Homo sapiens: one gene and its partner. The protein of the gene in region 2 interacts with the protein of the main gene of each other region in a pairwise test. Each region holds a gene or a part of one and is shown on either strand. Other genes may lie near its edges.

Region 1 (3,809 bases), on a different chromosome or scaffold from region 2:
TCTGTCTCCATGTCTCTCCTGTCTCTGTCTCTCTTACCTGTCTCTCATCTCTCTGTGTCTCATCTCTGTCTCTGTGTCTCTCATCTTTGTCTCTCATCTTGGTCTGTGTGTCTCTGTCTCTCATCTCTGTCTGTGTCTGTCTGTCTCCCCTGCCCGTGCTCTCTTGCCCTCTGCCTTCCACCATGGGATGACACAGCAAAAAGCCCCAGCCAGATGCAGGCCCCTTGACCTCGGACTTCCCATCCCAGCCCGCAGAACTGGGAGAAGTCCCTGCTCTTTGTTTTTTTGAGACGGAGTCTCGCTCTGTCGCCTGGGCTGGAGTGCAATAGTGCAATCTCCACTCACTGCAACCTCCACCTCCCAGGTTCAAGGGATTCTCCTGCTTCAGCCTCCCAAGTAGCTGAGATTACAGGCACCCACCACCATGCCCAACCAATTTTTGTATTTTTTTAGTAGAGACAGGGTTTCACCATGTTGGCCAGACTGGTCTCGAACTCCTGACCTCGTGATCCGCCCGCCTCAGCCTCCCAAAGCACTGGGATTACAGGCCTGAGCCACCGTGCCCGGCCGTCCCTGCCCTTTCTACACTACTCAGTCTCAAGTCTCTGTTAGAGCAGCATAACGTGGACTAAGACAGCAAACCCCAGACAAGGCCTGAGTCAGCAAGGAAGAGCCCAGGGTCTGTGTCACAGTGGGTACCGCAAGGCTAAAGAGGCCCCATCTCCCATGGGACCCACAGCAGGCTAAAGAGGCCCCATCTCCCAGGGGACCTGCAGCTCTACTCTTGAAGGTGCCCATTTGGACCCTTCCTCTTCTTCCTGGCTTGCAACAACCCCTCCCCCGTCAAGGCCCCCAGGAGGAAGTGGGCCTGTCACCACCTGGGGTGGGGCACTGGGGCAGGGGATCTCTCTCCCTCCCCTTTGCTCCATTCTCTGAGCACCTGAGGGGTCCCAAGCCCCTCGCCAGTTAGGATGAAATAAAGACAGCTCTTACATCACCTTTTTGTGGGAAAGCACAAAGTTGAACTCCCTCTCCCTTTCCTAGTAAAATAAACTACAAACAAAAGTAAAAGTGAAAACGAGGCTGGGAGTGGTGGCTCACACCTGTCATCCCAACACTTTGGGAGGCCGAGGCGGGCGGATCATGAAGTCAGGAGTTCGAGACCAGCCCAACCAACATGGAGAAACCCCGTCTCTACTAAAAATACAAAAATTAGCCTGGCACGGTGGCACGCGCCTGTAATCCCAGCTACTCAGGAGGGTGAGGCACGAGAAATCACTTGAACCTAGGAGGCAGAGGCTGCAGTGAGCTGAGGTTGCACCACTGCACTCCAGCCTGGGCGACAGAGCAAGACTCCATCTCAAAAAAAAAAAAAAAAAAAAGGTGAAAACAAAGCTAGCAAAGTTGGAGGTGGGCTGGGGAGACAAGGCAGCTCCTGGGGGCCCTGGGGCCCGCACCCTGGGCAGGACTGCATACGGCAGCTGCCGCAGGGAAGACACAGCCAGGCACCGCCCGTCAGGACTTACCCAGCCCGGGCAGCAGGCGGAGGAGCGCGTTCTTGTTCCTCTGCTTGGTGATGTGCAGGACGTAGTACAGCCCCACCTCGCAGGCCATGCGCTGCTCCTGCAGAAACCTGCGCCCGGGGCGCCATCAGCCCCACCTCAGCCCCACCTCAGCCCCACCTCAGCCCCACACCGACCCCTGCCCAGCCCTGAGGCAGCCCCCTGGGCAACAGTGCCATCCCTGCGCCACGGCCACCCCTGCACCATGGCCCTACAGCCCGTACTTAGTGAAGCTTTCGGGAAGTGTGTTTGGATATGAGACTGGGGCTTTCTCCTCAGCCGGAAGTTTCTGATCCACATTGAAAGTGTAGTCATCCACCAGGAAGGACATGAGCATCGGGAGGAACCTGGTGATGAGCTCTACCTCCTACGAGGAGGGGAGGCCATGAGCGGGCGCGGGCCCGGGCCCTGCCCCACCCCACCCTGACGTGACACACACCCTGCCCCTGGCCCTCCCACTCCCCCAGATACCTCACCGACCCTCCCTCCTCTCCAGGTCCCCAGGTCCCTCTTCCCACCTCCCGAGTCCCCCACCCAGGCCATCTCCTCAAACCCCCTTCTAGGTCTGGACCCACATGGAGTAGTCACCACCTGTGGCCAGCCATGGTCCATGGAGACACCCCCAGAACAAGCCACGGTCCACGGAGACACCCCAGAACCAGCCACGGGCCATGGAGATACCCCAGAACCAGCCAGGGTCCACGGAGACACCCCAGAACCTCCCTGGTGGGCATTTTCCCAAAAGGAAGGTGGGCAGCTCCAGGAAGGAAGCTTTGGGACCAAAGGGGCCTCCACAATCACCTTGCTAGCGCCTCCCCCTCCACCCCACTTCCAGCCCACAACCCCTCGTAGGAAACTGGCAGCCCCCACAGGAGGCTCGTTACCATCTTGGGCTCCTTGAAGACCTGGCTGTCGATCATGTCCCAGGCTCCCTGGCCCAGCGCCAGCAGCCGGAGCAGCAGCAGGAGGTCGGGGCTGTCCTGTAGGGAGGACGGGCTCAGCGCCTCTCCCAGGCAGCTGTGTCCTGGCCATGGAGCTCCTCTGACCCTACTCGTTACTCAGCAGGATCTCTGGTGCCCATGGCCAGGACCACACGACTGCGATCACCAGCCCCACACACGGGGTGAAACGCAGTCTCACAGCGGGGAAGCACACGCCTCTACCTGGGCCACTGCAGTCCACATCCCCGACCACCAGAGCAGCCAGCAGGGCGGCCACAGGGCCCCAACAGCTGCCTCCACCTGGCCGCTGCTGTCCACACCCTGACCACCCAGAGCAGCCAGCGGAGTGGCCGCATGGCCCCGACAGCTGCTGGCCAAGCCCACACTCACCCTGGGCAGTGTCTCCTGGCCGACCAGCTCCTGCAGGTGCCTGACTGTGCTCAGTGCCAGCGTGTTGATGGCGAAGGGGTCACACAGGATCATGGACAGGTCCCTGGAAGGAGGCCGCCCTGGCATTAATGCGACGCCTGTTGCCCCTCCCTTCAGCGGCACAGTCCTCAGGAGGGGTGGCCTAGGCTGAATTCAGGACTGGCAGCGGGTGCCCATCACATGCTGGGTTTCTTACAAAAAGCTTAAGGATGGCCGAGCGCGGCGGCTCAGCCTGTCATCCCAGCACTTTGGCAGGCCGGGCGCGGCGGCTCAGCCTGTCATCCCAGCACTTTGGCAGGCCGAGGCGGATGGATCACCAGGTCAGGAGACTGAGACCAGCCTGGCTAACAAAGTGAAACCCTGTCTCTACCAAAAATACAAAAAATTAGCCGGGCGTGGTGGTGGTCGCCTGTGGTCCCAGCTACTCGGGAGGCTGAGGCAGGAGAATCACTTGAACCCGGGAGGCAGAGCTTGCAGTGAGCCAGGATCGCGTCACTGCACTCCAGCCTGGGCAAGAGAGCGAGACTCTGTCTCAAAAAAAAAAAAAAAAAAAGCTTAAGGTTTGCAATTTGTCCTTAACCTATTCAAAGATTTTTCAAATTAAAAAGTTAAAAAAACAAACAAAAAAAAGGCTGGGTGTGGTGGCTCACGCCTGTCATCCCAGCACTTTGGGATGCTGAGGCCGGTGGATTGTTTGTTTGAGACTAGCCCGGGCGAGGTGGTGAAATCCCATCTCTACTAAAGATAACAAAAATCGGCCAGGCGCACTGGTGTGTGCCTGTAATCCCAGCACTTTGGGAGGCGGAGACAGCAGGATCAATGCCCAGGAGGTTGAGGGAGACTGTACCACTGCACTAAAGCCTGGGTGACAGAGACC
Region 2 (3,809 bases):
ACACCTGTAATCCCAGAACTTTGGGAGGCCGAGGTGGGAGGATCACAAGGTCAGGAGATCGAGACCATCCGGATTAACACTGTGAAACCCCCATCTCTACTAAAAATACAAAAACAAAAAATTAGCCGGGCGTGGTGGTGGGCACCTGCAGTCCCAGCTACTCAGGAGGCTGAGGCGGGAGAATGGCGTGAACCCAGGAGGCAGAGCTTGCAGTGAGCCGAGATTGCACCACTGCACTCCAGCCTGGGCGACAGAGCAAGACTCTGTCTCAAGAAAAAAGAAAAAAGAGAGAGATATCAGCTCGAGATGCTCCTCTTCTTAAAACCCTCCAATGGCCTTCCATCTCATTGAAAATCAAAGTCAAAGCCCTAAATAATCTGCACCATTCTCCATCATCTCTGACCTCATCTTCCCTCACTCCCTCCTCCTCTTCAGCCACACTGACCTTGGTGTCTGCAAGGTCACCTGTTGACTGGTTTGTTCCTACCCCAGGACCTTTGCACTTGCTGTTTCCACTGCCTGCCAAGCTCTTACCCAACATCTCTACAAGGCTGGCTCTCTCAGTCTAACACTGCCCAGTCCCTTGCCATGCTATATTTGTCTTTCTAGAATTTATCACTACTGGCATCACTTTAAATATTTATTTTTAATTAGTTTGTTTATCTGTCTCCCTGAATAAAAATTAAACTCCATTGAGGTCAGCAACATTGCCTGTTTTGTTCATTCCCTAACCTAGAACTGAGCCTGGCATATAAATTCTTGTTAAAGGAAAGAGAGAAAAAGAGAGAACGAGACTGACTGACTGTCCCTGGGGGAGTAGGTGGTTATCTATTTCCAAGATATGCTCAAAGCCCATCCTGGGACCAGCTTTATTCTTTCATAAATTCAATAAATTCTTAATAAGCACCTGCTCCATAATTGGCCATGGGCTGAGTGCTGCTGACACAGAGATGAAGAAGACAGTCCCTGTCCTCCAGGAGCACTCAGCCTGGTGAAGAAGAATGTTTGATAGGGGAAGAGTCACCTTCAAGGACTTCCTTCTCTACTGATTTTCCTTATGACTTGAAGCAAGTCACCTCCCCTCTCAATGGGATTATTAAGGAGACAATGAACAGCATTAATCAATCCAAAACTCAGAGTAAAGGGCACCGGATAAATCTGAATGCCTGGATCATTAGAGGAAACATGATTCTCTTTCTGGACCATCAAGGAGATGAATCTGTTGGAAACCAGAGGGAGGGGCACTTGGGCACACCGCACTAAGACCTAGGATATTTTTGACAACTGGAAAACTCCAAAATAGTTAAGCATGCATCAAAATTAATCAGCTTTCAGGAAAACGTGAGGCTCCTGGGGAAAAGAATCAGTGCTTTCTAGTTACTAGGACACCGGAGGCAGAATGTGCAAATACCCCTATGTGGTATCATCCTCTTAGCCTAAAAGTACTCTCTGCACATGGTACTCTGTCAGAAAGGTGAAGGGAAAGAACTAACCCTTACTGAGCATTTGCTTCTTACGACAACCCTGGGAGATGGTCAGAACTGCAAGGAGGGAGGGGCCCTCTCTGATGTTTGGAGGGGTTAAGTCACATGTGCAAGGTCTTTGGCTGGTGTGCAAGACAGCACAGTTTCAAACCTCAGTGTGCTGGACTTCAAAACTCATGCACTCTCCACCCCATCTGTCATGTGCAAGGCATTGCTGGGTGCAAGAGAGAAGCAGAGAGGAGCAAGCTAGGAGCCCTGACTTCAGGAGCTCATATAGGCAAAGACCATGTTGGGGTGGGAGGGGGGGAGTGTGGGGGGTGGGGGTAAGTAGAAGGAAGTAACAAAGGCAAAGGGAAGTTGTAGGTGAGGTGTGAAAACAGAAAAGAAAGGCTTAGCAGGACAGAAAATGTGTCAAGGAGTGCTGGGAAACAAAGCTGGAAGGGCGAGTGGAAGCCAGATAAGAGAGGACTTTTACTGCCACATCAGGAAATTTGGAATTCATCCAGGAGGCAGGGAAAACCATTGAGGCCTCTAGAACTGGAGAACAATGTGAACAAAGAGGTCTGTAAAAAGAGAAATCCAACAATAGTGTATAGGATAAGCTGGAGAGGAGGAAAACTAGAGATTGAGAAGCTGGTTAAGATTGCTTATAAACACAGGGTCAACACGTACAGTTGTGTAGTTTGAGCATTTCTCAAAGTACTCAACCAAAGGGATAGACAGAGGATAAAATCCACTCTGTACACTCTTGGCCAGACCCAGCTGTAACCCTGGCACGTGGCTACATGCACCCAGATGGGGCATCTTTTCTAACTCACACATAGGCACCATATAGACTGGCAGGGTCCAGGTCAATTCTCAAACTTTTGGTTTCAGAACTCCATTCACTCTCAAACAAAACTACTGACGGCCTCAAAGAGCTGTTGTTTATGTGAGTCATATCTATCAGTATCTACCAATTAGAAATTAACACTGAGAAAGATGTAAAACTCCAGAATACATTAGCACAAACTCCATGCATCATCAGAGCAATGATGTTATCACGTCCTGTGGCCTCTGGAAAACTCCACGGTATGCTCATGAGAGGATGAGAGTGAAAAAGGCAAATAATGGCTCAGTGTTACTATGAAAACAGATTCTATTTCATTGTCTCCTGAAAAGGTCTTAGGGCCCCCCCAGGACACCCTGGACCACCACTTGAGAACTGCTGCCTAGTTAATATGGGCCTAGAGTGGAGTGGGAAAAACTGGAGAGAGGGAAGAGAAGATCCAGTTAACATCACAAGGAAGGCAAAATGGTACGTGGTGCTTTGTAGGGGATAAAAGAAGAGGAAAAAGCAAAAGATGACCCCAAGATTTTAAGCTCCAAGAGACAGGAAATCAACGGCAGGGAGAACTGTCTTTGGTTGAAAACAGAAGAGAAAGAAAAGAACCAGCAGAAAGGAAGAGAGGACACATTACGAATGAGGTTGGGATGGGGGTGAGGCTGGGGAGGGACAGACCAAGGTCCTAGAAGGGGAAAGGGAAGGATCAAGTCAAGAAGCCTTGGAGGTGTTGCCTTGGGGTTATGTCAAGATGTCTGTGTAGCTGGACATGAGACACAGAAAAGAGAAAAGGTAGACAGGAAAAAATGAGACGAACATAATAGACATTATAGGATCATAATATTAGCATCGCACTTGCCGTAGTGCCAACACTAGACTAAATGTCTTCCACGCATTTCTTCACGTAACCCTCATGACAAGAAGAGCAGAAGGCCAGATGAGCTGCCCAGTGTATGCAGGAAAGATAGGCCAGAGGAGGTGGAGCAGTGTGGGCTCACACTGCAGGGGCTGCAAGGAGAGGCCTGGCCACCCTGCTAGAATGACAAGGAGGGTCCAGATGCTTGAATATATGTGAACTGAACCAGGTCAGCCTGGTTTTCCCAGCTGCTCACTTGACAAGATGCAGTCATTCATTATTAAGTAGGTGTAAAAATACAAATTATCCACCTGGGTGGAAAAGACTAGACAGGCGAGGGGCTTGGCTGCATTGCCGCAAGCCACACAGCACTTGATGCTGTGCTGCCTCCTGTCTGGTCCCTGCACTGCTGCACATCCCAGCATCTCATGGCCCCCCAAAGGCAGACAGCATGAGAATGTCCTGAGGCTGGCCAGAGAATTAGGTGAGATGTTTGGGATGTGCCAAGGATGCTGCCAGGCAAAGGCTTTGTACAAATTTTCTGCTTCCTTCCATCCTTTCCCCCCAGGGTCCTGCTTACAGGACCTGATCCAGCAGATGGGATGCACCTTGAAACCTGGTCCTTTGTTCCAACTGAGTTTATGGG

The links.
Region 1: the proteins of NTRK3 (region 2) and NELFB interact in a two-hybrid assay, tested with the Homo sapiens proteins (one study listed by BioGRID).

Annotation. Positions count from the first base shown.
Region 1 is NC_000009.12:137,265,064-137,268,872, reverse strand, and holds part of NELFB (negative elongation factor B), read right to left. Parts: intron 2,997-3,809; coding exon 2,894-2,996; intron 2,543-2,893; coding exon 2,447-2,542; intron 1,930-2,446; coding exon 1,787-1,929; intron 1,634-1,786; coding exon 1,527-1,633; intron 1-1,526. UniProt on the Homo sapiens protein: Essential component of the NELF complex, a complex that negatively regulates the elongation of transcription by RNA polymerase II.
Region 2 is NC_000015.10:88,138,140-88,141,948, forward strand, and holds part of NTRK3 (NT-3 growth factor receptor isoform a precursor), read right to left. Parts: intron 1-3,809. UniProt on the Homo sapiens protein: Receptor tyrosine kinase involved in nervous system and probably heart development.